2 separate regions of the Homo sapiens genome follow, and region 1 is linked to region 2. Evidence: fine-mapped expression QTL. A gene starts in region 2. The other region holds a variant in brackets. All regions are shown on one strand. Distances are from middle to middle.

Region 1 (16,552 bases), 570 kb before region 2:
TACTTTTTTTGAAAAGTATTATTATAAACCTATTTGGTACATTGTTTTGTAACAAGAATGTGCTATTTAGTGATATATCTTGGACATAGATCTGTTGCACAAAGGTTCTGGGTCTTTCTGGTAGATTCTCCCATTCCTGAGACCATGGAAAGGTTAGGCAAGCTCTGGTGTGAAGATTTTAGCCAGAAGCCATAGTGCAAACCCAAGAAAGCCAGCATGATTTCCACCCTTCCTCTTCTCCCCTCCCCTGTTAGTTAGATATTTTGTTTCATTGGTTCAGCCCAGTCTGGAAAAATTATGGTTGGGTTTTGAGAAGCAGCTCTAAGCTGGCTATTTGAGAAGCAACAGTAATGAAGGGTGAGGCAGGCAGGCCCTCACCTCGTAGGCTGCATAGAACACTGCAAATGAACTTAGACTGGGATTCCAGATACCTTTGCTTCTTGTCTTGACTCTGCCCTTTGTATCTTTATTATGGTTAATTTGTTGAGACATCTTTTTTCCAGATAGACTATTAGGGTAGGGAACTGAGGTCTCTTCTTATTAGGTCATCTTATAGGCATTGATGTGGAAAAGAGGAAATAAATCTATCAGTATTTGGGGGAAAAGATTATGTAACTGAAAACACCAAGAGAATCAATTGCGAGACTGCTGACAACAATAAATGAATTCCACGGAATAACATGGTAAAGAATTAATAAACATCAACTGCTTTCATGTATGCAAACAATAGTCAATCAGAAGACACAAAGGAAGAAGATATCCCATTTGCAATAGCAACAAAAAAGAGGCAGAGATTCAATTTGTGAAGAAATTTAAACACTTCTTTACAAAATACCTGGAAATAAAGGTGCGAGATTTATATGAAGAAAAGTTTAAAATATTACCAAAGGACATGAAAGATTTGAACAATAGGAAAACGTGTCATGTTCTTGGATAAGATGACTCAGTAATAAAATATATATATATATATATTTCTTTTTTAATATATATGGCATAAGGAAAAAATATATATAATTATACACAGTCCTTATGTGCTCTCTCTCTCTCCCTCCCTCCCTCTCTCTCTCTCTACATATATATATATATATATATATATACGTGTATATATATACACATATATACACACACACACACACACACATATATATATATATATATATATATATAAATAGTCATACATCACTTAACCGTGAGGATAAATATTGAGAAATGCTTCATTAGGTTATTTCATCCTTGTGCAAAGAACATCATAGAGTGCACTTATGCAAACCTAGATGGTATAACCCACTACACACCCTATTGCTATACCATAGACATATATATGGTATAGCCTATTGCTTCTAGGCTACAAGCCTATACAGCATGTTACCATACTGAATACTATGGGCAATTATAACACAATGGGAAGTGTGTGTGTAATTAAACATATCTAAGTTGGCTGGGCACAGTGTCTCACGCCTGTAATCCCAGCACTTTAGGAGCCTGAGGCAGGTGGATCGCCTGAGTCAGGAGTTCAAGACCAGCCTGGCCAACATGGCGAAACACCATCTCTACTAAAAATACAAAAATTAGTCAGGTGTGGTGGCACGCACCTGTAATCCCAGCTACTCGGAAGGCTGAGGCAAGAGAATCACTTGAACCCAGGAAGCGGAGGTTGCAGTGAGCCGAGATTGCGCCACTGCACTCCAGCCTGGGCGACAGAGCAAGACCCTGTCTCCCAGATAAATAAATAATAAATAAACATATCTAAGCATAGAAAAGGTACAGTAAAAATATGGTATAAAAGATACAATTGTACACCTCTATAGGGCATTTACCATGAATGGAGCTTGCAAGACTGAAGTTGCTCTAAGTGCATCAGTGGGTGAGTGGTGACTGAATGTGAAGGCCTAGGACATTACTGTACACTACTGTCGACTTCATAAACACTGGACACTAAGGCTGCACTAAATGTATGAAAAGTATCTTTTTTCTTAAAAAATAAATTTAGTTCACTGTAACTTTTTTACTTTATAAACTTAAAAAATTTTAAAAACCTATTGACTGTTTTGTAATACATAGCTTAAAACACAAACAAATTGTACAGCTCCACAAAACTATTTTCCTTCTTTATATGCTTATTCTATAAGCTTTTTTGATTCTGAAGGTTTTTGTTTTTATTTTTTAAACTTTTAAATTAAAAACTAGGACACAAACACACACATTGGCCTAGGCCCACACAGGATCAGGATCATCAATATCATCATATTCCAGGTCCACCCACATCTCATGCCACTGGAAGGTCTTCGGCGGCAATACATACATGGAGCTGTCAACTCCTATGATAACAATGCCTTCTTCAGGAATACCTCCTGAAGGACCTGCTTGAGGATGTTTTACAGTTAACTTTAAAAATGTAAATAAGAAGGCTGGGTGTGGTGGCTCACAGCTGTAATCTTAGCACATTGGGAGGCTGAAGTAGGAGGATCCCTTGAGGCCAGTTCAAGAGCAGCCTGGGCAAGAAAGCAAGACTCTCATCTCTACAAAAAAGTGAAAAAAGAAGGCCAGGCGCAGTGGCTCACGCCTGTAATCCCAGTACTTTGGGAGGCCGAGGTGGGCGGGTCACCTGAGGTCGGGAGTTCGAGACCAGCTTGACCAACATAGAGGAACCCCGTCTCTACTAAAAATACAAAATTAGCTGGGCGTGGTGGCTCATGCCTGTAATCCCAGCTACTCGGGAGGCTGAGGCAGGAGAATCGCTTGAACCCGGGATTCGGAGGTTGCGGTGAGCCAAGATCATGCCATTGCACTCCAGCCTGGGCAACAAGAGTGAAACTCTGTCTCAAAAAAAAAAAAAAAAAAAGAAAAGAAACAATAAAACAAATAAATAAATAAGAAAAGAAAAAGAATGAGAGAGGACTACCGCTATCAAAGATACAATCTTTATAAATAATAATTAAAGCAGTATAGTGTTGTTGTATGAATAGATAGACAACTAGCCGGATAGACTAGAAAGCCTAGAATACATCCAAAATACACACAGGAATTAAGTATATGATAATAGTCGCATCTTACACCAGAGGAGATAAGATAGACTGTTTCAAGAGAGTTGACGGGAAAACTGGGTACCCATATGATAGAAAGCAACAACAGCAACAAGTTAGATCTATTCCTCTCTCTCTTCACCAGGTAATTTTTTTTCTTTTTTGGTCTCTAATTCCTGGTGATAAGATAGGGGAATTTTTAAAAGATAGACAGGACTCTGGTGATGCTGCCTGGCTAGATTCCAACTCCTGGGTTTAAGCAATTCTCTCGACTCAGCCTCCTTAGTAGCTGAAACTACAGGTACATGCCACCACATACAGCTCAGGATAATTTCTACAAGGATCAAAGATTCAAATAAAAAAGTAAAGATGTTGGCCGGGCACAGTGGCTCACATCTGTAATCCCCGCACCTCGGGAGGCCGAGGCGGACGGATCACCTGAGGTCAGGAGTTCGAGACCAGCCTGGTCAACATGGTGAAACCCCGTCTCTACCAAAAATATAAAAATTAGCCAGGCGTGGTGGCACGCGCCTGTAGCCCCAGCTACTCGGGAGGCTGAGGCAGGAGAATCGCTTGAACTCGGGAGCTGGAGGTTGCAGTGAGCCGAGATCACGCCACTGCATTCCAGCCTTGGCAACAGAGCAAGACTCTGTCTAAAAAAAAAAAAAAAAAAAAGTAAAGACACTAAAAGAAAACATAGGAAAATTCCTTTATTTTGAGGGCATGGAAAAGGCCTACCTAATTATGACTCAAAACTCAGATAAATTTCACTTTTTTTAAACTATCAGATTAGCAAGACCCTAACATGTTATCTGTCGGCAGAGAGTCAGTGGAGGGGGCATGGCAGTCTCAGGAGAATAAGGAATATAAGTTGGTGCAATACCTATAGAAGATAATTTGGAAACATCAAAATTAAAAATACATGTGCTCTTTGTCCCAACAATTCCATTTCTGAGAATTTACAATAGCACCTTTACCTTTAAGTATGAAATGACAAATGCATAAACTTATTCATTGTGGCATTGTTCACAACGACAAATAATTAGAAAGAATCTAAGTGTTAACCAGGAAATTGGTTTAATCCATTGCAGCACATCTGTATAATAGTACATATATGTAAAAAAAGAATGTGTGGGATTTCCAGTTCCACCAACATGGAATAGCTCCATTTCTCCCAGGTCCTCTCCCTAAAAACTAAAAATCCCTGGACACAACACAGCAAACCTAGGAAGATTCTCAAGGGTGGAAAGAAGAAGGCACACTACAAACCAACAGCTCTCATGAACTTGGATGTAAAAGTCCTCAACAAAATATTAGCTAATCAAATCCAGCGATAGATAAAAAGAATTATACACCATGACTAAGTGAGATTTTGTTCAGGTATGCAAGGCTGGTTCAATATTCAAAATTATTTCTTCTTCTTCTTCTTTTTTTTTTTTTTTTGAGACAGGGTCTCACTCCATCACCCAGGCTGGAATGCAGTGGCACCATCTCAGCTCACTGCAACCTCCGCCTCGCAGGCTCAAGTGATTCTCGTGCCTCAGCCTCTCAAGTAGCTGGGATTACAGGCGTGTGCCAACATGCCCAGCTAATTTTTGTATTTTCAGTAGAGACAGGGTTTTACCATATTGCCCAGGCTGCTCTCGAACTCCTGGACTCAAGTGATCCACCTGCCTTGGCATCCCAAAGTGCTGGGATTACAGGCGTAAGCCTCTGTGCCCAGCCTGGCTATTTAAATTTAAGTTAATTAACATTAAATTAAATTAAAAATTCACATCCTTAGTCAAGCTAGCCATATTTCAAATGTTAAATAGTCATCTGTGGCTAGTGGCTCGTGTATTGGACAGCACAGAATTACAAAACATTTTCATCACAGAAAGGTCCATTGGACATCACTGACCTAGAGAATTACCCTTTACTGTGTGCTTACTATAAAATATAGCTGTCTGTTGAAACATCTCAGTGAGTGTTCTCTGGGGCTAGATTGTCTAGGTATGAACCCCAGCTCTGCCAGTCACTAGCTGTGTGACCCTGAGCAAGTTACTTCACCTCTCTGTGCCGCATTTCTTCAACTGTAAATTGGGCATCATAATAGTATCTACATGAGATTACTGTGAGGATTCAATGAGATAATACATGTCAAACACTTGCAACACTACGCTGACCCATAGTAAATTCTCAGCACCTGTTGTTTTTATTTAAACCTCACAGCAGCCCTGTTAGGTAGGCGTTATTATGGTTCTCATTTATGGGAGCAGAAATTGAGGCTCAGAGAGCTGGAATAACTTACTCAAAGTCACATGGCAATGAAGTGGCAGAGCTGGCTTTGAACTCCACAGCCCACAGTTTTCTAGACTTTAAGCTACTTCTGCCTCTGAGGGGTAGGATGCCTCTGCTTCTAGCCTCAGCTGGCACTTGGTCTAGCTCCACGATCTTCTTTGCCAGATGAGCTTCTGCCAACCCTACCAGGGGCTCCAAGTACTCATCCACATCCCTATCACCATCAGCAGGGGCCTCCACCATCCACTGGCACCCATGAGAAAGCCTTCCCCTTCCTGCTGCCCTAGGTGAGGTGCTGGGCCCAGAGCACTGCACAAATAGAACATGAATTCTGCTGACAGAGTAATAATAAGGCCCCTAAATCAACACTTGGACTTTTTGCTTTACATATATTACTCAAACTACATGTCAGGAATTAATACACATTATAAACCAGATGTGCCAGTTACATATTTCTCTCTGGAACATCTCTTGGATGCCTCCTGAAACTGCTACTGGTGTTAATCACACATTGTTTCCACCCTACTCTGCCCTTTGTGGGACTGCGCTGACAGCAGGAGGGGCAGGGAAGGGGCAGGAAGGATGGGAGGCCTAGAAGATCTGTAAGGAGCCAAAGCGCTGATTTTCTCACTTTGGAACCCGGCCCAGCTGTGTTGGGTTCCACAACAACTTCTGTATCTCTCTTTTTTTTTTTTTTTTTTTTTTTTGAGACAGAGTTCTGCTCATGTTGCCCAGGCTGGAGTGCAATGGTGCGATCTCGGCTCACCATAGCCTCTGCCTCCTGGGTTCAAGTGATTCGCCTGCCTCAGCCTCCCAAGTAGCTGGGACTACAGATGCATACCACCATGCCTGGCTAATTTTTTGTATTTTTAGTAAAGACAGGGTTTCGCCATGTTGGACAGGCTGGTCTCAAACTCTTGGCCTCAGGTGATCTGCCTGCTTTGGCCTCCCAAAGTGCTGGGATTACAGGCGTGAGCCACTGCACCAGGCCCACTTCTGTATCTTTCTGCTGTGCAGACTGGGACTGTTAGCCTGATATCCCAGTACTTAGCTGGGGTCTGGCACATGGTGCATATTCAGAGAAGGTGGCAGAGGCTGCTGATTTCCTACTCCAGGTTATTCTCTCCTTGTTTCCAAAATAGGGTTTTTAAAAACCTTGATGTTCTTTGGGGCTGCAATGTACCAAGCTAAAAATACTCACCTCCATAATTTCTTTTGTCACTAGGTATGGGTATGGGAACTAGCTGTGGCCAATAAGATGAAAAAATATATATATGCTGGGGATTTCTGCAAAGTCCTGACATAAGGGCCATTAGTTACTCCTTCTCATTTCCTCTCCCTCTGCCTGGAACATAGTTGTGATGGTCACAATTGCAGCCATCTTGCAACCATGAGGTGAAAAGTATGAGGACAAAGGCCTACATGCTAGGATGGAGGTGTGAAAGGGTGGAAATAATCTGGAATCACATGGATATATCTGAGCCTTTGTGCTAGTCCTGTTATGCCCTACCGCCAGACACACTGTTATTTAAATAAATAACAAGATAAACAAGCCTCACTCTTAACCTTGCACTTATCGGGACTTATTGCATTCCTGATGCGTTTGTTTTTAATGTGCTGGCATCCATAGGAAAGCAACTCTTGGGGCACCCCTTTGGTCCTTGCCTCCTTCTCTAAAGTATGCCTATGACTACATTCCTGCCCACACCCCACAGTCAGAGTGTCCACCACATTCCCCACTGGGTGAGTGGTGGGCCATGGCCATACCTGATTGAGCCAATGAAATTAACCTGGCCTAACCACTTTCCCTCCCTGACAATTTCAACTCAATCCAGAAATTTGCATTAGAACATAGAAATTAGCGTTTGCAGCCTGCTGTGGCCCCAGGAAGGTTTCCTTTGGCCAGGATAGTGCTTTTTTAGATTTTTGAAAAACATCAAGCTTACCCCAAATAGCTGGATATCTGACCTCTCTTGAAATAGTGGAAAATCTGGCATCACCGGGCTCACATTCCACATGGCAATAAATGGCTGTGGCTGGGAAATGGCTGCCCCCTCTAGACAGGCACACACTCGCACAATTTTTACAGTCCCTTGGGAGAGCTTCCCTTGGGACTATGGAAAATGTGTGTGCCTGTGTTCTATACATGGCTCCTTTTCATCATCCCTGTTGGCTCCTGTAGGCATTTGAAGTTTAAGATGCCTGCTTTAAGTAGTCTCTATAAGTCCCCAAACCGTGCTGATAATAATGCTGATAATGAAGATAACAATAGCAACAATTACTGATGGCTCCTGTGGCCTAATAGCTTGGTGAGGGCTTTACACACGTTGTGTGATTTCATCCTCAAAACAGGAAAACTGTTGTCCTCATTGTACAGATGAGGAAACAGAGCCCAAAGAGGATCAGTAACTTGACCAAAACCTTGTGGATGGTAAACTGTACATCTGAGATTTGAATCCAGGCATTCTGACCTCAAAGTGGGTGCTTCCTAAACAGTAAGCTATAATGTCTTTCCATGAATTAAGACAAAACCACAGCTGGAAAGAAGTATGTGGCAGTTGTATTGAGAGAGACAGAGAAAGAGACAGATAGAGAGAGAGAAATTGAGGCACCAAAGTGGGAGGCAGAGGGAGTAGCTGCCTGGGCCCCTGTTTTCTATTTCCCTGTGAAGCCTAGCTGTAGCCCACATTTGGGTTGCACGCAAACCACAAGTTGGGATTCATAATGCAAGCAACAGAAACTGACTGTGGTAGATTTAAGCAGGAGAGGAATCAGTAGAAAAGATACCAGAGAGCTTTTGGCATTGCTGGGAAGGCTGAAGAACCAGACCTGGACAC[C/T]GCAATGGCAGAAACACAGGGCCTGTGAGGACCCTGCTGCCTCCAGTGCAGAGTACCAGACCCTTCCACTTGCCTCTCTGACTCTGCTAAAGCTCCACATCTGCATGCTAGGAACAGTCACTGGCCCTACTGCCCAGGCTGCCCCAGAGACAGGATATTGCTGCTTCTATGGCCACCACCACCAGACTACCTCTCCACTGTCCCTGTGTCTTTCTTTTTTTTTTTTTTTAAGATTTAAGTGGAAGTTTTTGTTTTATTGGTTTGGTTTGGGTTGGGTTGTTGTTGTTGTTGTTGTATTGTGTTGTGTTTTCTTTTGTTTAGAGACAGAGTCTCGGCCGGGCACAGTGGCTCACGCCTGTAATCCCAGCACTTCGGGAGGCTGAGGTGGCCGGATCACTTGAAGTCAGGAGTTCAAGACCAGCCTGGCCAACATGGAGAAACCTCGCCTCTACTAAAAATACAAAAAGTACCCAGCCATGGTGGTGTGCACCTATAATCCCAGCTACTCAGGAGGCTGAGGCAGGAGAATCGCTTGAACCCAGGAGGCAGAGGTTGCAGTGAGCCAAGATTGTGCCACTACACTCCAGCCTGGGTGACAGAGCAACACTCCATCTCAAAAATAAATAAATAAATAAATAAAATTTAAAAAATAAAAAATAAAAAAATAGAGTCTCACTCTGTTGCCCAGGCTGGAGTGCAGTAGCATGATCTTGGCTCACTGCAACCTCCATCTCCCAGGTTCAGGTGATTCTCCTGCCTCAGCCTCCCAAGTAGCTGGGACTATAGGTGCGCACCACCACACCTAGCTAGTTTTTTTAAATTTTTTAGTAGAGATGGGGTTTCACTATGTTGGCCAGGCTGGTCTCAAACTCCTGGCCTCAAGAAATCCACCTGCCTCAGCCTCCCAAAGTGCTAGGATTACAGGCATGAGCCACTATGCCCAGCACTGTCCTTATGTCTTTATATTACCGACTCCTCATTCAAAGTTTGGTTTATGCTTCTGACTGGCTGAGCCTAGGTCACTTGCCCAAACCTTAGCTGCAAGGGAGGCTGAAAAGCAAATAGCTAGCACTGCCACATTCTATGTGGGGAAGTGAGCTCTACTTCCCACCAAGACTCATATGATGGGAAATTCTTCAGACATGAGTATGTGTTTCTGAGGCTGGACAGCCAAAAGGAACAACTATCCATAAAAATTCACAGTGTCCCCTTTTCAATAAGCTAGCTCAAGTGATTAGCATTTAGAATTGCATCAAAAAAGAGATAGCACTCAAGTGCAGTGATCAAGGAAAATATTTATTTATTTTTTTGAGACAAGGTCTCAGTCTGTTTTCCAGGCTGGAGTGCAGTGGTGTGATCACAGCTCACTGCAGCCTTGACCTCCCAGACTCAAGCGATCCTCCTGCTTCACCCTCCCAAAGTTCTGGGATTACAGGTGTGAGCCACCCCACCTGGCCAGGAAAGTATTTATAAAGTTGTAACAATCGTTAAGGGAAGCCAACGGGAATGGGGGAAGCACCCCAGAGACTGCAACAGTTGAGGGGGGTACATTATGGGTCCAGGCCTAAAGAGGCAGGGAGAAGGAGTGCTTCCGTGAATGTGGAAAGAGTTGAAGTTGAGAAAACGGTTTTCCATGATAGTTCCAGTCCTTGGCCCCAGTGGCGGGGGAGCTGGGTAAATAAATACCCTCATTTCTCTCTTCTTCCATCCTCTAGTATCCTGCACGTGTCTCCCATTGAGCAAACCCAATAGAAAGCCAGGGAGTAAAGAATCCTTTCGACATATTCCATTAAAGTGAATCTCTGGGACACAGCACCACTGGTGGAGAGGGCGAAGGGTAGATCTGGAGAGCTAAACAGAATAGCTAACAACCCATGGCATGATCCTGATCTTACCATTGAATCACTCTAAGCCGGTTTTTCCACTTTAATTGAGAGACTCTGGCATTTTGTGGTTCTCCCAGAACTTTCCAACTGGCCACTGCTGACATCTCCTCCTTTTTGGCCTGACCTGTTAATTTGTTCCTATCTATAAGCCTGCATGTGAAGGTCACAGCCTTTGGTTTCCAAAAAGCAGAGTCTTTTCTATGTGGTCACAGGGAGTCGCCTTTGTTGCAGGTGAAATCAATTCTCCATCCAGGTCCCCAAATTCTGATTTGACGGCTCTCCTGGAATTTTGCCAAACAAGCAACTTGCCTCTGTAAGGCATGAACTGTCTTCCCAGATATCAAGAGCTGCCCTCGTGGGGTGGGTTGTTTCTTTCTTTCTCTCTCTCTCTCTTTCGAGACAGAGTCTCACTCATTGCTCAGGCTGGAGTGCAATGGTGCGATCTCGGCTCATTGCAACCTCCGACTCCCAGGTTCAAGTGATTCTCCTGCCTCAGCCTCCTGAGTAGCTGGGATTACAGGCGCCTGCCACCACACCTGGCTAATTTTTTTGTATTTTTAGTAGAGGCGGGGTTTCACCCTGTTGGCCAAGCTGGTCTCGAACTCCTGACCTCAGGCGATCTGCCCACCTCGGCCTCCCAAAACGCTGGGATTACAGGTGTGAGCCACCACGCCCGGCCTGTTTATTTATCTTTCAAAGCCTCATTTGGTCTCTTTTTCCTCTCACGACTTGGTCTGCCAGCCAAATTTTACTCTAGCTTCCCGCATTCCCTGTTGAGTGATCATCTCTCCATGACCCAGATCTTAGTCCTTCTCTCTACAAAGAACTACAAAGAACATCGTGTCTCTACCTTAACTGCAGTCTGGTGACTCTGTTGCCAGCATGGCTTGAAATGGTTCTTGCCTAGACTTATTTTTTTTTTAATGGTAATGCTGTATTTTATTCTGTTCATTAACAATACATGAGAACACTTACAATATTCATTGAACATAATCTAAGAGAAGATCAATTTACAATTTTTACATCTCCTCTATTAATAAGAGAGATGGTTGAATTAATTTATGGTCAAAATTACGATGGCAAAAACTTATAAATAAATAAATGCTTGGTGTTAGTGTGTCCGGAATTTATTCCCTCCAGCGGGTTCTTGGTCTCGCTGACTTTAAGAATGAAGCCGCGGACCTTCGCGGTGAGGGTTACAGTTCTTAAAGACGGTATGTCTGGAGTTTGTTCCTTCAGATGTTCAGATGTGTCCAGAGTTTCTTCCTTCCCGTGGGTTTGTGATCTCGCTGACTTTAGGAGTGAAGCCGCAGACCTTCACAGTGAGTGTTATAGTTCATAAAGGTGGCACATCGGGAGTTGTTTCTTCTTTCCGGTCGGCTGGTGGTCTCGCTGACTTCAGGAATGAAGCTGCAGACACTCCCCGTCAGTGCAGAAAAGTTCTCCAAGTCCCCACCCGACCCAGAAGCCCAGCCAGCTTCACCTCTCATTAGTATGGCCAGGTACATTTCAGTTTTTGGTGTAAAGGTCTTTGGCTACAAGAAAGAAAATTTGGTTTACTTCACTAAATAGAAATAGCTCTTAATGCTGGAATGGCCTCCTCTTAGTATTTCTTCTGCTGTTGATTTTTAGCATAGTTATCTGTGATTGTACGAATGGAGTCGAGTGAATGGGGTACAAACAAGAGCACATAGCCAATTACTATAGTAATAAGGAAGTAGAGAGGTAATGCAACTGTCCAATATTTTTGAGGCCAATAGGTTAAACCTAAGGAGTTTAGCCAAGATTCAGGAATAGAAGCCTACACGAGGTAAAGTATGAAGCCAAATTGGGAGCTTAAGAGAAGCAGAAGGCCATAAATCGGTCTTTCTGGCAATGGTGACAGTGAATTTTCCACCATTTTTCCTGGGGCTTGAGACAATCTCAGCACTGAGTTCCCTGTGCAAGCGCCGACCAGGAAGCCCCAGTGCGGGGCGAGGGGGAAAGAGGAAAAATTGAGGGAAAGGCCTAGGCGCGAAGGCTCCCCCAACCCAGGCGCAGGCACACGACGACCCTCCCGCTGGTTGGGAGCCAGTGAGCGCCTCTTGCCTAGATTTCTGATGGGAGAAGCTGTTTCTCCTCATCCTTAAAGTTTTGAGTGGATGACCTAGATAAATGAGCAATGAAACTATGAAGACTAAGTTCAAAGGAGTGACATTTAGCATTGTGATCATCTAAAATCTGTACAAGTTAGGCGATGCATTTAATAAGTGATTATAAATATTTAACGTATACATATACAGCAAGTGACAAGCGTTTTATCATGAGCATTAGCATTCTTAGGGAGAGGTGGCAGTGGAGTGGACTGTGATGTTCGGCACAGGCAACCCTCCTCCCCCACTGAGGAATGAAGGATTTATTCCACCTGCTACTGGGAAAAGTGTTGGCAGATGATCCTTGGCTCTAAGCCCTCTTTGGGAATTTCCTTGGCAGCTGCCTTTTCAGGGCAGTCTGCATAAATGATTGATCAGCTTGGGAGCTTAGAGGCCTGGTCCCCTTGCCTCTACTCAGGACAACTTGGAAGACCTATTCCAGTTTTAGAGGTCTCCATGAGGTCAGTGGAAGCCTTTGTTCTGACATTGCACTTCAATTTCTCCCTCTGCTCCATCCTGCTTCCTTCTCTGCTCTTCCACCGGTGTTGATCCCAAGAGCACTCCCTGAGTAACTTCCTGCATGTTAATCTCTATCTCAGAGTTGGCTTCCCAGAGAATCCAACCCACAGTCCTCCCCTCCTCCTTGTTTCCGGGCCCCTTAGAATGTGACTTTGCAGCTTCTCCAATCAAGAGATGGAGTTTATTTTTTGACATCTTGAATCTAAGCTGGCCTGTGACTTGCTTTGGTCAATAGAATGAGGCAGAGGTGACATTGTGCCAGTTCTGAGCCTGAACCTCCAGAAGCCTTGCATGCTTCTTCTGTCACTCTTGGAGTCCTGCTGCTACTGTGAGAACAGGCCCTGGCTATCCTGCAGGAGCAGGAGAGACGAGTGGTCAAGTCACTGCTGTTGCCCCAGCTGACAGTCAACCAATCCCTGAAGCAGAGCCACCTGGCTAACGACAGTGCCTGAATGAACCTAGCCAAGACCAGAAATAATACCTAGCTGAGTCCAGGCGAAACTGCTGACCCAGAGATTCAAGAGCTAATAAGTAGTACTGTTTTAAGACAGTTAAGTTTTGGGGTGGGCTTGCTATGTTGCAATCCTTAACTGATACAAGAAGGAACTGTGTTTGAGGAACCACAAACTGGAGGCAGGAGCACCAGGCCCCTAGTAACAGAAGAGATGATTAAGAGCTTTCCATGAGAAAATGGGAGGAATTTATCTTTTGCCCCTGCGAAGAAGGCAGAGAGAACAGAATGGGGGTAGGAGCATTAAAAGTAGGTAAGGAGGAGAAGGTTGCCAGCCAGAAGGTAAATGACTGGGAATAATATGAGTTGAAGCAGCAGGTGGAATTGCCTGGTGGGTCTATGTCCATGTAGTGAGGGCAGCAGACAGACTTGTTTGTATTTCTTAGATATAATCACTTCTCTGTTTATTTGCATCTCATTCCAATCTCCTTACGAAAACAGGAACCAGGCCGGGCGCGGTGGCTCACACCTGTAATCCCAGCACTTTGGGAGGCTGAAGCGGGCAGATTGCCTGAGCTCAGGAGCTCAAGACCAGCCTGGGCAACATGGTGAAACCTTGTTTCTACTAAAAATACAAAAAATTAGCAGGGCATGGTGGCACACACCTGTAATCTCAGCTACTTGGGGGGCTGAGGCAATAGAGCGAGACTCTGTCTCAAAAACAAATAAACAAAGAAAAAACACACACTATTGCATAAAAAAGCAACTTGCAGAAAATGAAATATGATAGCATTATAAAAACACATAAGACAAACATTTATGGATACATTATATGAGTAAAAGTATAAAAACAAGATTTGGAAGGACAGACACCAAATTCCCTATGGTGGATTCCTCTGGGAAGGAAGGCATACGTAAGAGATGTCACTTTTAACCCTATTAGATTAAAACAATCAAAAGCCGATCCTGTAAAATAATAACATTAAATTCAAAGAGTTGGAGGGCATGGGTATTTGTTAGACAGCTCTCTGTTTTTTCTGTATTTAAGATTTTTACCAACTGAGAAAAAATCTAATTATACCCATGAATGTTTTTGGTTATTTGTCTGAGAGTGTGGCTGAGTTTCACATCTGGGTCATAGAGATTCATGCCAGAACCAGGACCCCAGAGGCAATGTTACTGAGCATATGAGTCCCCTAAGGTCTCCAGACTCTTGGGAAGGGCTCTGTGGACATATAGGCCATGGAAATGGAATCTAAGTCCATCTTACTGAGCTTGCCTGTGGTGAGAGACCCTGGGGAACATCTGGGTTACATGTATAATTGTTACAGGCATTGACACCACGGGTAAGCAGATCTCATATGTTAAACAAATGGTAAACAAAACAAAACAAAACCTCTTCTCTCTTTGCTAATTTCACAGTGTCTATAATCAGGCTTGCTATCGATAGTTTTCCCTGATACTGTGTATGATCCCACACACAATTAAAGGAAAGTGTCTGGAAATGAGAGAGTTGTGAGTATTAGTTGATGAAAGAAGCAGATCTGAGCAGAGGAGCTGCCGATAAGAATGAAGAAAAGACCCACACTAAGAGGGCTCACTGATGCTCCCGGGTCTCAACTCGGGACCCGAGCTCGCTTTGGGTGCCTAATTCACACTCACCTACTGTCCCTCTGGCTACATGTTCTCTCCAAAAACTCTAAATGTAACCATGCTTCCTTTAGATTCCTGTGCTAGGCACCATCTAGCCATAGACAAAGCTGGCTTTGAGTCTCAAACTAGCTGTGTGATCTCTTTTCTTGAAATGCAGTCTCACTCTGTGGCACAGGCTGGAGTGCAGCGGCACGATCTCGGCTCACTGCAACATCTGCCTCCCGGGTTCAAGTGATTCTCATGCCTCAGCCTCTCAAGTAGCTGGGACTACAGGCCTGAGCCACCATACCCGGCTAGTTTTTTGTATTTTTAGTAGAGATGGGGTTTCACCATGTTGTCCAGGCTGGTCTTGAATGGTCTTGAACTCCTGACCTCAAGTGTTCCACCAGCCTTGGCCTCCCAAAGTGCTGAGGTTACAGGCGTGAGCCACCACACCTGGCCTAGCTGTGTCATCTTGAACAAGTCACTGAACTCTGTTGAACCTCAGTTTTCTCACCCATAAAATACTGATTCTAATCCTTGCCTTCCCCTATAGGACTGTTTAAAAAGGATTCAATAAAATAATGGACATTACAGGGGACTTGCAACCTATAAGTTTGTATATGGAACAGTTGTAAACTATTCCTCAACTGTAGATAACAACTGCTATAGATTATTTTATTTATTTATTTATTTATTTATTTTTTGAGGTGGAGTCTCACTCTGTTACCCAGACTGGAGCACAGTGGCGTGATCTCAGCTCACTGCAACCTCTGCCTTTCGGGTTCAAGCAATTCTCCTGCCTCAGCCTTCCAAGTAGCTGGGATTACAGGCCCATGCCACCAAGGCCAGGCTTTTTTTTTTTTTTTTTAGTAGAGATGAGGTTTTACCCTGTTGGCCAAGCTGGTCTCAAACTCTTGACCTCAGGTGATCCACCCACCTTGGCCTCCCAAAGTGCTAGGATTACAGGCGTGAGCCACCGAGCCCAGCGATATTTTATTTTATTTATTATTATTATTATTATTATTATTATTATTATTATTATTATTATTTGGAGACAGAGGCTCACTCTGTCTCCAGCCCAGGCCGGAGTGCAGTGGCGCAATCTCAGCTCAGTGCAACCTCTGCCTCCTGGGGTTCAAGCGATTCTCGTGCCTCAGTCTCCCAGGGTAGCTGGGACTACAGGTGTGCACCACCACGCCCAGCTATTTTTTGTATTTTTAGTAAAGACAGGATTTCACCATGTTGCCCAGGATGGTCTCAAAATCCCGAGCTCAGGCCATCTGCCCACCTCAACCTCCCAAAGTGCTAGGATCGCAGGCATGAGCCACCGCACCCGGCCCTCTTTTGTTTCTTTAAATTAAATCCAAAAGCCATGGGAGCAACGTTGGAGAGTCCAGGAGTGCTATTGTTGCTGTGTCACTTCCCATCCAGTAGAAGCTGCTGTCACATGGTGACCCTCCTACCTCCTTGAGTACTGCTGGTCCAGGCTGCAGCAATGTTTCACTATTTCCAGGTCCCAGCATGGGCCATTGTGGTCCTTTGACAGAGTTCCGTCACTGCTCTGGGGCCATGTTTAACACTAGGTGCAAGGCACAGCTCTTGTACCCTATCAACCATTCTCTTCTGGAGCACAGATGCCCAGGAAGTTTTGTGCCAAAGCTATTTAGACATCTTTCCCTTATGAAAACCACAATTATTTTTTCCCTGTTTCCAGCCTAAAGGTTGGGTCAGTTTCCTCTGGGGAGACTGGGCGTAGCAATTTTAAAAATACAGAATAATGTGAAGAAAA
Region 2 (13,801 bases):
CTGAGATCGCGGCCACTGCACTCCAGCCTGGGTAACAGAGTGAGACTCGGTCTCAAAAAAACAAACAAAACAAACAACAACAACAACAAATTAGCCAGATATGGTGGTGTGCACTTGTAATCTCAGCTACTCGGGAGGCTGAGACAGGAGAATCATTTGAACCCTGGAGGTGGAGTTTGCAGCGAGCAGAGATTGCGCTACTGCACTCCGGCCTGGGCCCCAGAGCGTGACTCTGTCTCAAAAAAAAAAAAAAGAGAGACCAGGTAACTTAACTTTGAGGCAATCACTTTTAGCTTACTTACAATGGTAGCATTGTTTCTTTGTGAAAATGAAATTTTCTCAGCTTATCCACTAAATTTTCAGCAACATCCCAAACCACCAAAGACTCACTCCTTTTCCTTCTGGCCATCAGCAGTCTGGTGCCTTCACTTGGAACACCACCCTCCGCCCTATTTTTTGTTTTGGAGGTGGGGTCTCGCTTTGTTGCCCAGGCTGGAGTGCAGTTGCGGGATCCCAGCTTACTGCAGTCTCGGCCTCCCAGGCTCAAGTGATCCTCCTACCTCAGCCTCCCAAGTTGCTAAGACTATAGGACTGTGCCACCATGGCTGGCTAATTTTTTATTTTTTAATTTGTTGTAGAGATGGGGTCTTGCCATGTTACTCAGGCTGGTCTCACACTCCTGAACTCAAGCAATCCTCCTGTCTTGGCCTCAAGCAATTCTCTTGCCTCAGCCTCCTGAGCAGCTGGGATTACAGGCGCTCGCCACCATGCCCGGCTAATTTTTTTGTATTTTTAGTAGAGACGGGGGTTTCACCATGTTGGCCAGGCTGGTCTTGAACTCCTGACCTCAGGTGATCCGCCTGCCTCGGCTTCCTAAAGTGCTGGGATTACAGGTGTGAGCCACTGCGCCTGGCCATAATTTTTGCATTTTTATTAGAGATGTGGTTTCACCATGTTGGCCAGGCTGGTCTCGAACTCCTGACCTCCAGTGATCTTCCCACCTTGGCCTCCCAAAGTGCTGGGATTACAGATATGAGCCACTGTGCCTGGCCACTATATGTATATTTCTACATCTAGAATGAGATTTATCATAAGGAATTGGATCAAGTGATTATAGAGGCTGAGAAGTCCTACAATTTGCCATCTGCAAGCTGCACACCGAGGAAAGGTGGTGGTGTAAATTCCAGTTTGAATCTAAAAGACTGAGAATCAGGAGTGCCAATGGTGTTTAAGTCCCAGTCCAAGGGCAGGAGAAGACCAATGTCTCAGCTTAAGCAGTCAGGCAGACAGAGAATTCAACCTTGCTCTGTCTTCCTGTCCTATTTGGGTCCCCAAGGGGTTAGATGATGTCCATCCAGATTGTGGAGGGTAGTCTACTCTACTCAGTCCACCAAAGCTAATCTCTTCCTCAAGAAACACCCAGAAATAACGTTTAACTAGATATCTGGGCAACCTGTGGCCCAGTCAAGTTGACACAAATAATTAACCAGCACAGTGTTCTGCATTATTTCCCAGTGTTCTCCAGCAGGATTAAGACCTAGATGCCTGCAAGAAAGTTGCTTGTTAACAATGTTTATTGGCTGTCTCCCCTCCCTGTTTCACTCCCCTACTACCCTACCAGTGTTTCCTGAGATTACTTTGCAAATCAACTACCTGCACTCAAATACTTGTCTCAGTAGCCGGGCACAGTAGCTCATGCCTGTAATCCCAGCACTTTGGGAGGCCAAGGTGGGTGGATCACCGCAGGTGGGGAGTTAGAGACCAGTCTGGCCAATATGGTGAAACCCTGTTTCTACTAAAAATACAAAAATTAGCCGGGTGTGGTGGCGCTTGCCTGTAATCCCAGTTACTCAGGAGGCTGAGGCAGGAGAATCGCTTGAACCCGGGTGGTGGAGGTTGCAGTGAGCCAAGATTGGGCCACTACACTCCAGCCTGTGTAACAGAGTGAGACTTGGTCTAAAAAAAAAAAAATACTTGTCTCAGGTCTGCTTCTGGGGAGCCCAAACTAAGACAGAAAGCAGTCATTTATTCATTCAACAAATTTTCATTAAGCCCTTCTATGAGTCAGACCCTGTGTAGATCATGGGGATAAAGCCATGAACAAGACACGACGTGTCCCTCCCTAGCTGATAGTCCAGGGAATAGGCAATGATAAGAAAATAAGTAATGCCAACATTTTGAATAGTGACAAATATGGTGAAGAAAATAATAAGAGAAGTGATAGAGTAGTTTATATGAAGTGGTCAGAGAGGGTCTCTCTGAAGAGCTGATATTTATGCTGAGACCTAAAGGATGAGAAGGGGCCAGCCACGAAACAATTTTGGAGAAGAGCATTCCAGAAAGATAATAGTAAGAAGAGAAGCTCTGTGGGCATGGTGTTGCGTGCCTGTAATCCTAGCTACTTGGGAGGCTGTGGCAGGATAATTGCTTGAACCCGAGAGGTGGAGGTTGTAGTGAGCCAACATCACGCCATTGCACTCCAGCCTGGGTAACAGAGCAAGACTCCGTCTCAAAAAAGAAAAGAAAAAAAAAAAAGGACAGAGGGTCTGAAATAAACATTTGCTTGGGTTATTGAAGGAGCAAGATAAAATTATGTAGTTGAAGTATAGTCAACTAGAAAGAACACAGTAGGAGAAGTAAGTGGTAAGAAGTACATGGGTTGGAGAAGTAAAAGTAAGCAGGGGGCCAGACATGGTGGCTCATGCTTGTAATTCCAGCACTTTGGCAGGCTGAGGTGGGAGGATCACTTGAGGCCAGGAGTTTGAGACCAGCCTGGCCAACATGGCGAAAACCCATCTCTAGTAAAAACAAAAATCAGCCGGGCGTGGTGGTGCTCGCCTCTAATCCTAGCACTTTAGGAGGTCGAGGTGGGCGGATCACTTGAGGCCAGGAGTTTGAGACCAATCTGGCCAACATGGTGAAACCCTGCTCTACTAAAAATACAAAAATTAGTTTGACGTGGTGGTGCACGCCTGTAATCCCAGCTACTCGGGAGGCTGAGGCAGGAGAGTCGCTTTAACCTGGGAGGCGGATGTTGCAGTGAGCCGAGATTGCACTACTGCACTCCAGCCTGGGCGACAGAGTGAGTGAGACGTCGTCTCAAAAAAAAAAAGCAGGGGCCACATCATGCAGGCCCCTAGGATACAGTAGGAAATCTGGATTTTATTGCACGGGCAATGGAAAGCTCTTAAGCTTTTTGTTTTTGTTTTTTTCTTTTCTTTTCTTTTTTTTTTTTTTTTTGAGATGGAGTCTTGCTCTGTCGCCCAGGCTGGAGTGCAGTGGCTCGATCTTGGCTCACTGCAATCTCCGCTTCCTGGGTTCAAGCAATTGTCCTGCCTCAGCCTCCCGAGTAGCTGGGACTACAGGCACGCGGCACCATGCCCAGCTATTTTTTATTTTTTATTTTTAGTAGAGACGGGGTTTTACCATATTGGCCAGGCTGGTCTCGAATTCCTGACCTCATGATCCACCCACCTCAGCCTCCCAAAGTGCTGGGATTACAGGCATAAGCCACCGTGCCCGGCTGTTTTTGTTTTTTTCTTTTTCAAGACATGGTCTCATTCTGGTACCCAGGCTGGAGTGCAGTGTTGAGGTCATGGTTCACTGCCGCCTCAACTTCCCTGGCTCAAGCAATCCTCCCTGCCTCAGCCTTCTGAGTAGCTGGGACCACAGGTACCCACCACCATGCCGGGGTAATTTTTGTGTTTTTTGTAGAGATGGGGTTTTATCATGTTGCTCAGGCTAGTCTAGAACTCCTGGGCTCAAGCAATCTGCCCATCTTGGCCTCCCAAAGTGCTGGGATTACAGATGTGAGCCACCACGCCCGGCCTGCCACGGAGAGTTTTCAGGAGAGGGGTGATATAATTTGATTTAATAAAACAAACACAAATTCCCTTAGGCTATGTGTGGGAAACTGTTCTCAGGAGACAAGGTGACCATTAGCAGGCTACTGTGATTGTTTCTGATGAGACAATGGTGGCCTGGGTAGTTGTAGCTACCGAGTAGACAGATTTGACATTTTGGAGTTAGAGTTGACAGGGCTTACTGACAGATAGAATGTGGGGATCCAGGGAGGTGAAGAAAATGACCATTCAGTTCCTCCTAGTGCACCTGGAAGGATGGTTGGGCCATTTACTGAGATGGGCCAGAATGACAGGTACAGGTTTTTGGTGAAGGTGCATGTGTGGAAATGAAGAGTTCTGTATAAGTTAGAGATGGTCATCAGACACTCAAGAAGGGGTGTCAAGTAGGCAGCTGAGCTATGGCTCTGGTACTGCAGGGAGGGTCCAGCTGGAGATGTGAATCAGGAAGTCATTAACCTACAGGGCAGCACCCTCCAATAGAAATAGAGCGTGAACCTCTTAGGTGACTTAAAATTTCCCAGTAAGGACCGGACACGGTGGCTCATGCCTACAATCCCAGCACTTTGGGAGGCCAAGGTGGGAGGATGGCTTGCGCCTAGGTAGGAGTTTGAGACCAGCCTGGGCAACATGGGGAGACCGGTCTCTACAAAAAAATTAAAAAAATTTTAGCTGGGCGTGGTGGCGCCTGCCTGTAGTCCCAGCCACTTGGGAGTGTGAGGTGGGAGGATTGCTTTAGCATGGGAGGCGGAAGCTGCAGTGAGCCATGATCACACCATATTATTTTTCCCCCTGCTAGCCACATTGAAAAAGTAAAAAGAAACAACAGGTGAACTTAATTCAAATATTTCTACCACCATAGCTACAAATAAAAAAAACTAATTCAACAAATGTACTTATTTAATCCAATATATCCCAACAATTATTGCAGCACATAATCAATATAAACATTATATATATGAACTATTTGACACTATTTGACATTTCTTCTTCCACATCCAGTGTATCTGACATTTAGCGCACATTTGATTTGCACTCACCCACTTTGAGGAGCTCAATTGCCGCTTAAGTCCGTGGCTAGTGGCTGCCCTAAAGTTCAGCACCGCCACGGAGCTTTGGGTCCACCCGGACTGTAAAAAGGAAGCACTTCCGTTAGCATGACCCGGCCTGAAGTAGCGGCGGAACGGAAGTCGCTTGTGTATGAACGCAGCGGCGGACCTGTGAGGGGATCCGACTTGCCGGCAGAACTTACGCTGCGGGACCCCGGGCACTGTTGCTGCTGCGGGAGGTGAGCAGCGCGGCCGCCGGGGTGGGCTGCGCACCCGCTTTTGACTGGCGCCTGGGGCAGGAGGGGCCGCGGATCCCGGGAAGCGCACGGTGTTCAAGAGGGAGGATGGCACGGTGGTTATGGCGTGGGGCCTGGCGTCAGGCTGTAGGGGTTCGTACCCTAACCCCGCCGCCTAACCCCGTGTGACCTTGGACAGGTCACCTCCACTTCTTTCAAGGCTTCGCTTCGCCACCCGTGAAGTGGGGTTGACAGTACAGCCTGCCTCACAGGGTTGCTATGAGGGTTATAGGTAATAATTCGCGGAAAATGCTTTGCACCATGCCTAACGCATTGTAACCAGCCAATAAAATGTTTGGGATGTTGTACGCTGTTGTTCCAGCCTCATTGCCGACTGTCAGAATTAATTTCGAGCCTCCAGAGAGGCTTCTACATTGCGTTATGCAAAGCATTTTGCTTGTATTATTGCATTTGATCCTACGGTAGGCTTATGGAGATAGGTGCTATTATCCCCATCTAGAGGCTCCCAGAGTTTAAGACAGGTGCCTAAGGTTTAGCTGGCTTGGCAGCAGTGGGGTCAGATTCTGACTCCAGGGTCCATACTTTTTTTTTCTTGAGACGGGAGTCTTGCTCTGTCGCCCAGGCTGGAGTGCAGTGACGCGATCTCGGCTCACTGTAGCCCCTGCCCCGCGAGTTCCAGCGATTCTCCTGCCTCAGCCTCCTGGGTAGCTAGGATTACAGGCGCATACCACCACACCCGGCTAAGTTTTGTATTTTTAGTGGAGTTCATACTCTTAACCAGGATGCTCTAATACTCTCTGTGAAAGGGGGTGTGGGCTGTAAATGTGCAGTTAGTGAACGCTTACTGTATCTCAAGTTGGGTTTTTAATATCTTATTCTTAATAACACTTATGGGGTGGTAGGTGCTGCTTTTATCCTTATTTTACACATGTGGAATTGGCGGCTCAGAGACAGAAATTTGTCTTGCCAAAGGTCACACAGCAATTATGGAGTAGAAAGGGGCGATTTTAAAGTTCACACTTTAAGGCTGTTCTTCTCTGACTCTTGAAACTGGGTTGGCATTGCTCCTAAGTGCTAGTAGCAGATGTGGCAGGTCATCTCATTGGAAAGGTAATGGGCCACATCTGCTCTTTACACGTGTATAGCAGGGTTCCCCTAACCCTAGGTGGTAGAATGGTACCTGTCTGTGGCCTGTGAGGAACCGGGTTGCACAGCAGGAGGTGAGCAGCAAAGCTGGCATTACTGCCTGAGCTCTGCCTCCCGTCAGATTGGCCACGGAATTAGTTTCTCAGGAACACAAACCCTATTGTGAACTGCGTATATGCAAGGCATCTAGTTTGTGCATTCCATTTCCTTTTTTTTGAGACAAGTTCTCTCTCTCTCTGTTGCCCAGGCTGGAGTGTGGTGGCGCAATCTCAGCTCACTGCAATCTCTGCCTCCCTGGCTCAAGTGATCCTCCTACCTCAGCTTCCCAAGTTGCTGGGATTACAGGCACATACCACAATGGCTGGCTAATTTTTTATTTTTTAATTTGTTGTAGAGACAACAAATAAACATGGTCTTGCCATGTTGCCCAGGCTGGTCTCGAACTCCTGAGCTCAAACAATCCGCCTGCCTCGGCCTCCCAAAGTGCTGGGATTATAGATGTCAGCCACCGCACTGGCTCAAGATTGCATGCTCCTTGTAAGAATCTAAATGCCTGAGGTGGAACAGTTTCAACACACCCCTGCTTCCATGTCTGTGGAAAAATTGTCTTCCATGAAACCAATTCCTAGTACCAAAAAGGTTGGGAACCACTGATGTTTAGCACCTGCCGTGAGGCAGCTACCACAATGGGAGATGGTGAAGGTGTAGAAATGAATGATACTTGTTCCCTGCTTGCAGGAACCTGCCAGTTTACTAGGGCTGGCAGAAGTGTCAGTAATAATTAACAGCAAAGTGTGATGAGTCTTGTGATGGAGAGATAGAATAGAGCTTTGGGAACCCAGAGGAGGACCCCACCTAGACTTCGGGGGTGATGGCCAGAGCAGGCTTCCCAGAGGAAGAAAGCTGAAAGTACCATAGGCCACTAGAGAGAAGATAAATACCAGCCAGAGAACAGCATGTGTAAAATCCTATAAGCTAGTGAAGATTAATACAAAGAAGTGTGGCATGGCTGGAGTGTAGTAGGCCATAGATGTGGGGTCCAGTAAAAATATATGGTGATCCTAGAATTCTTCCTTAGTCAGAAAATTAAAAAAAAAAAAAGTAAATAGTATGGCTTCATCTCCTATACCTTAGTCACCTAAGTCTTCCTGGGAGGCAACTATTGTTTCTTATGCATTCTAGAGATATTGTATGTACCTGCAAATAGGTACCTCAATATTCCCACCCTCTTTCCCCACAGATTCAACAGTAGTATAATGTAGGTAGCATGGAGCATATTGCTTCCTTGCCTTTGTCATGTATAGGTTCAGCCTCATTTATTTTTATTTTTATTTTTTTGAGATAGGGTCTTACTCTGTCACCCAGGCTGGAGTGCAGTGGTGCGATTATGGCTTACTGCAGCATTGATCTCCTGGGCTCAAGCAATCCTTTCATCTCAACCTCCTGAGTAGCTGGGACTACAGGTGTGCATCACTGTGCTCGGCTATTTTTTGTTATTTTTATAGAGATGAGGTCTCACTATGTTGCCCAGGCTGGTCTCGAATTCCTGGCTCAAGTGATGTTTCTGTCTCAGCTTCCCAAAATGCTGGGATTATAGGCATGAGCCACTGCACCCGGCCACCAGCCTTGGTTTCTAACAGTTGTATCTTGTTTCATTGTATGGATGCACCAGAACTTACTTAACTAGTCCTTTATTGATAACATTTAGATCTTTCCCTTTCCTTTGCTATTAGAAACACTGTTGCATTGAATATCTTTTATTTTTATTTTTTGAGACAGTCTCACTCTGTTGCCCAGGCTAGAGTGCAGTGGCGTGATCTTGGCTCACTGCAACCTTCTCCTCCTGAGCTCAAGAGATTCTCATGCCTCAGTCTCCCGGGTATCTTAGAATACAGGTGTGTGCCACCACATCCAGCTAATTTTTTGTATTTTTAGTAGAGATGAGGTTTCACTGTGTTGGCCAGGCTGGTCTCGAACTCCTGGCCTGAAGTGATCCACCAGCCTCAGCGTCCCAAAGTGCTGGGATTACAGGCATGAGCCACTGTGCCTAGACTGAATGTCTTTATACATAGGTCATTTTGTATGTGTATAGATTTATCTGCAGGATAATTATGAGTGGAAATGCTTTGTCAGATGGTTTGCACACTTGTAATTTTGATGGAAAGTGGCAAATTGTTCTCTATAAAGGTTGTGTTATTTGCTAAGCCAAGTGTGAGAGGGTCTGGGTGGAAAGTTTGAAGGTAGTAGTTTGAAACTCTTTTTTTTTTGTTTTGAGATGGAGTTTCGCTCTGTTGTCCAAACTGTAGTGCAGTGGTGCGATCTCGGTTCATAGCAACTTCTGCTTCCTGGGTTCCAGTGATTCTCCTGTCTCAGCCTCCTGAGTAGTTGGGACTATAGGCACTTGCTACCACATCTGGCTAACTTTTGTATTTTTAGTAGAAATGGGGTTTTGCCATGTTGGTCAGGCTGGTCTTGAACTCCTGACCTCAAGTGATCCTCCTGCCTCGGCCTCCCAAAGTCCTGGGATTACAGGCATGAGCGGCTGCATCCAGCCAAGACTCTTGAAGGGTAGAAGGAGTCACTGATCGGGCATACAATGCCCTCACATTAGTTGCTTTCCTTCTGAAGGAACTCAAAGGAAGATGCCCTCAGACAGTGAGTGGTTTTCACTTTATTAAGAGGCAGTGTAGCAAGATGGGTAGTGGCACGGGCTTTGCATCCATACAGATTTTTATCTGAGTCCTTGTTTGACTGCTTACTGGCTGTAGGAGCTTAGGTGAGTTCCTCAACCTATGTCTTTCGGAATAGGAACAATAATAGTATCTGCTTCCTAGGATTGCTGTAAAGATTTAATGAGTTAATACACTTAAAGCCTTGGGAACTGGTCTTGGCACAAGGTGCTATTTTGTCATTTTGTCAGGGCTTTCCATCTCATCTCTACCACCCCTTGTTTTGAAAAGACTGCCTGGATTTGCATCTCATCTCTGGCACTCCTTTGTGTGGTCTTGGGCAAGTTGCCTCAGTTTTTTTCAACTGTAAAACAGAGGTCATATTATTAGGAGTACCTTCTTCATGGGCTTTTGTGAGGGGTAAATAGATGTATACACTTGAAGTGCTCACAGCAGTGTCCTGTCCATAGTGTTCAATAAATGCTGGTGATGTCTGTCATTCTTTTGCAGACTGTGGGCTGTTTAGTGCCATGCACCCTTTACAGTGTGTCCTCCAAGTGCAGAGGTCTCTGGGGTGGGGACCATTGGCCTCTGTGTCTTGGCTGTCGCTGAGGATGTGCAGGGCACACAGCAGTCTCTCTAGTACCATGTGTCCCAGTCCAGAGAGGCAGGAGGATGGAGCTCGGAAGGATTTCAGCTCCAGGCTGGCTGCTGGACCGACTTTTCAACATTTTTTAAAAAGTGCCTCAGCTCCTCAGGAGAAGCTGTCTTCAGAAGTGGAAGACCCACCTCCCTATCTCATGATGGATGAACTTCTTGGAAGGCAGAGAAAAGGTTGGTTTTACTTCGCTTATCCCTTTGGGCTTCCTGCCTTGCTCCTCTCTGTCATTCCTGGCATGATTCTTTTATTACAGAACTGGCTTGGAAGGTTAACAGTGTGGGAAGGCTGTGGGAATCATTAGACTCCACCAAGTAATATTAATATCAAGAAACTCGACTGGTCACGGTGGCTCATGCCTGTAATCCCAGCACTTTGGGAGGCCAAGATGGGTGGATTGCTTGAGCCCAGGAGTTCAAGAACAGTCTGGGTAACATGGTGAAACACTGTCTCTACAAAAAATAAAAAATTAGCCAGGTATGATAGTGTGCACCTGTAGTCCTAGCTACTCAGGAGGCTGAGGTGGGAGAATCATTTGATCAAAAGCTGATTATCATTCAGCTCTTAACTTTTAGTTGGAATTTATTGGAGTCTGGAAATAAGACCTGCTGGTGGGGACGGGGGTTGATCTTGGAATATAGTTTGAAGCTGCCAGAATGTGAAATTCATATTCTTACAACTGTGTACAAAATTAGTTTTACTTCATAATATAGCCTTGCTTTCATTTAAGATGAAGTTACTGTAAGAAGATGCCTCATTTTAATTTTGTGACTTTATGTACCCTCTGGCCACTGCTGCTACTTCCAGAGGCTGGAAAACCTCTTTATTTTGAGGAGGAGTGTAACATGTGGATTTAAACTTATTTTCCCTTCAGGCTGATGAACACTATCAGTTAGCCCTTCCTTTTCTTTTCTTTTTTGTTTTTTTTTGAGTCTCGCTCTGTCGCCCAGGCTGGAGCACAATGGTGCGATCTCAGCTCACTGCAACCTCTGCCTCCTGGCTTCAAGTGATTCTCCTGCCTCAGCCTCCTGAGTAGCTGGGATTACAGGTGCACGCCACCACACCTGGCTGATTTTTGTATTTTTAGTGGAGACCTGGGTTTCACCATTTTGGCTAGGCTGGTCTCGAACTCCTGACCTCAAGTGATCTGCCCGCCTTGGCCTCCCAAAGTGCTGGGATTACAGGCGTGAGCCACCACCCTCGGCCTAGTCCTTCCTTTTCTAATTGTTTTTATAACTATATTTCCTTGATTCTCAGGTACATGTTTTCCCCATTTAAAAGATAACATGGCTTGTAATTGGTGTGGATATATAATGTGGTATATTTTTTTGTTTGTTTGAGACAGGTTCTCACTCTATTGCCCAGGCTGAGTGCAGTGGTGTGATCATGGCTCACGGCAGCCTCAGTCTCCTGGGCTCGAGCAGTTCTACCTCAGCCTCCTGAGTAGCTGGGACCACAGGCATGTATCACTTGCCTAATTTTTAAATTTTTTGTAGAGACAGGGTCTCCCTATGTTGCCCTGGCTGGTCTCAAACTCCTGGGCTTAAGTAATCCTCCTGTCTCAGTCTCCCAAAGTACTGGGATTATAGGCATGAACCACTGTGCCCAGCCTAATATGGTATTTCTTTTGTTCTGAAGGTCTATCATTAACTTGGGGGTACATCTGGCAATTTATGTTATCTTAAGATTGAAGCAATAGGGGACTTAGTGGATAACCAGATGCCTCAGATATTTCTAGAGCATTTGGGAAGGAGACCTTTTGAGACACGAGACCCCTTGTTGTCTGTCTACCATGGATTCCCCCCAACCTCTCACTGCAGTCTACCTCGAGACCTATGGCTGCCAGATGAATGTGAATGACACAGAGATAGCCTGGTCCATCTTACAGAAGAGTGGCTACCTGCGGACCAGTAACCTCCAAGAGGTACATGCATTTCCTATTTCCTTTGTTTCCTGGACCTGGGCAAGATTCTGCATTTGTGCCAGTTCTTAGGTGTAGTTTCAGGAGCAGGGTGCCCCCTGGTGAGAGAGAGTTCCCTTGGGTGAAGTGTTCACCATGGGACTGAGTTGTACTTTTGTTCCAGCTGTTTTTGAAACTTTTATGGTGATGTGCGCCTTCAGACAAGGAGCTAAGTTAAGAATTGGCTGTGGAGAGGGAAGTTGGAGAGTTACTGTTTAACGAGTACAGGGTTTTAGTTGCAGAAGATGAAAAAGTTATGGAAAATGCGTAGTTATGAAATTGCAGATGTTCTTAATGCCACAGGACTGTACCCTTAAAAATGGTTAAAATGTCCAGGTGTGGGTCACCATGCCTGTAATCCCAGGACTTTGGGAGGCCAAGGCAGGAGGATTGCTTGAAGACAGGAGTTTGAGGCTGCAGTGAGCTATGGTTATGCTATTGCTCTTCAGCCTGGGCAAGTGAGCGAGACTCCTTTCTCTATTAAAAAAAAAAAAAAAGGAAAAAAATAGTTAAAGAAAAATAATAGGCCGGGTGTAGTGGCTCATGCCTGTAATCCTAGCATTTTGGGAGACCAAGGCAGGTGAATCACTTGAGGTCAGGAGTTCGAGACCAGCTTGGCTAACATGGTAAAACCCCATCTCTACTAAAAATACAAAAATTAACTGGGCGTGGTGGTGGGCACCTGTAATCCCAGGCTGAGGCAGGAGAATTGCTTGAACCGCTCGGGAGGTGGAGGTTGCAGTGAGCTGAGATTGCCCCACTGCACTCCAGCCTGGGAAACAGAGTGAGACTCTGTCTCAAAAAAAAAAAAAGGAAAAAAAAATAATAAAGAGCTGTAGGGCAGGAATTGTACAAGGCTAATATCCAAGATATTATGTAATTTTCCTTGTTTTCCTTTCTTTCCATTCAGGCAGATGTGATTCTCCTTGTCACATGCTCTATCAGGTGCGAATTTGTTCTTTTCCTAGGAGTGAATGTATTTTATGTAATAATGCCAGAGCTAACAGTGCCTGGCCTGGCTGTCTATGGAGATGAGCCAGTGGCCCCATGGCAGTAGGACTTGCAGTTTTCCCACAGTGGAGATAGTCTTTATACAACTGGCTGACATTGGCTGGGCATGTACCGTGGTGTCAGGTTCTGAGTGAGTAACATAATGCATTAACAAATTTAATGATCACAACAACCCTGTGTGGTTGGTGCTGTTATAGATGAGGACACCAAGAATGTGCCGAGCCACTCAGCTCTTCCTGAGCTTTGTTTTGTAACTAATGGCATATGTTTATAATATAGCTGCCCGGGGTAGGATGTAGTCATAGGCTTGGGGAGTTTTGAGTAGAGATGGGTGACTCCCATCAGAGGTGAACGTACCTCCTTTCTCACTTTGTTTCTGTGTTCAAGACATGCTAGTGTTAATGTTTCCCTATCCGGCTATACTGTCAATTAATTCATCTGACATTTTTGTTCTGTAGGCCTCTGCTGCTTGACACTGAACTATGTGCTTTGGGTGATTCCGAAATGAACCCTTCTTCCATGGCCTGGCTTTAAGGAGCCTAGTCTGATATGGGAACTAAGATAGATGAACAAATAGCTCCAACATCTGGCAAAAAATGCTAGTTCAAAAAAAATCAAACAATGAGGCTGGGTGTAGTAGGTCACACCTATAATCCCAGCACTCTTGGAGTCCGAGGTGGGAGGATCACTTGAGTCCAGGAGTTCAAGGCTACAGTGAACTATTCAAGACCAGCCTGGGCACAAAGTAAAGCCCTGTATCTACAAAGAAAAATAAAAGATAAATTGCTGGCCAGGCACGGTTGCTCACACCTGTAATCCCAGCGCTTTGGGAGGCCAGAGTGGGCATATCATGAGGTCAGGAGTTCAAGACCAGTCTGGCCAACATAGTGAAACCCCATCTCTACTAAAAATACAAAAATTAGCCAGGCGTGGTGGTGCACGCCTGTAATCCCAGCTACTCAGGAGGCTGAGGCAGGATAATTGCTTGAACCAGGGAGTTGGAGGTTGCAGTGAGCCGAGATCGCGCTGTTGCACTCCAGCCTGGTGACAAAGCGAGACTCCATCTCAAAAAAAAAAAAGGAGAAATTGCTAAGTATAGGGAAAAATCTAGTTAAAGTAGAAGGGCATTAGGATCTGGAATCATAAAAAAAAAAAGTTGAAGGGCAGTTAAAGGGAGGACAAACTGTCCAA

Alleles and levels. Alleles are on the strand shown, and positions count from the first base shown. SD is a standard deviation of normalised expression in the study named.
In carriers of allele T in region 1, the expression in monocytes after R848 of the gene that starts at base 5,057 in region 2 tends to be lower than with C alone (large effect, 0.93 SD a copy in Quach 2016).

The links.
Region 1: its variant is fine-mapped to the expression of CDK5RAP1 in monocytes after R848 (Quach 2016, PIP 0.95).

The regions. Positions count from the first base shown.
Region 1 is chr20:33,960,560-33,977,111 of GRCh38, reverse strand. It overlaps the pseudogene PIGPP3. Among named protein-coding and RNA genes, the nearest start is that of RALY, 25 kb to the left of the region's middle. The variant C/T (reference allele first, on the strand shown) is at 8,141.
Region 2 is chr20:33,392,775-33,406,575 of GRCh38, reverse strand. CDK5RAP1 (CDK5RAP1 mitochondrial tRNA methylthiotransferase) reads left to right here and starts at 5,057. Exons shown (of 14, transcript NM_016408.4): 1 at 5,057-5,148; 2 at 9,492-9,815; 3 at 11,460-11,563; 4 at 12,510-12,544. The coding sequence starts at 9,512. It overlaps LOC124904889 (a long non-coding RNA gene), which reads right to left and starts at 4,994. Exons shown (of 2, transcript XR_007067567.1): 1 at 4,901-4,994. RefSeq lists enhancers at 4,917-5,116, 5,257-5,346.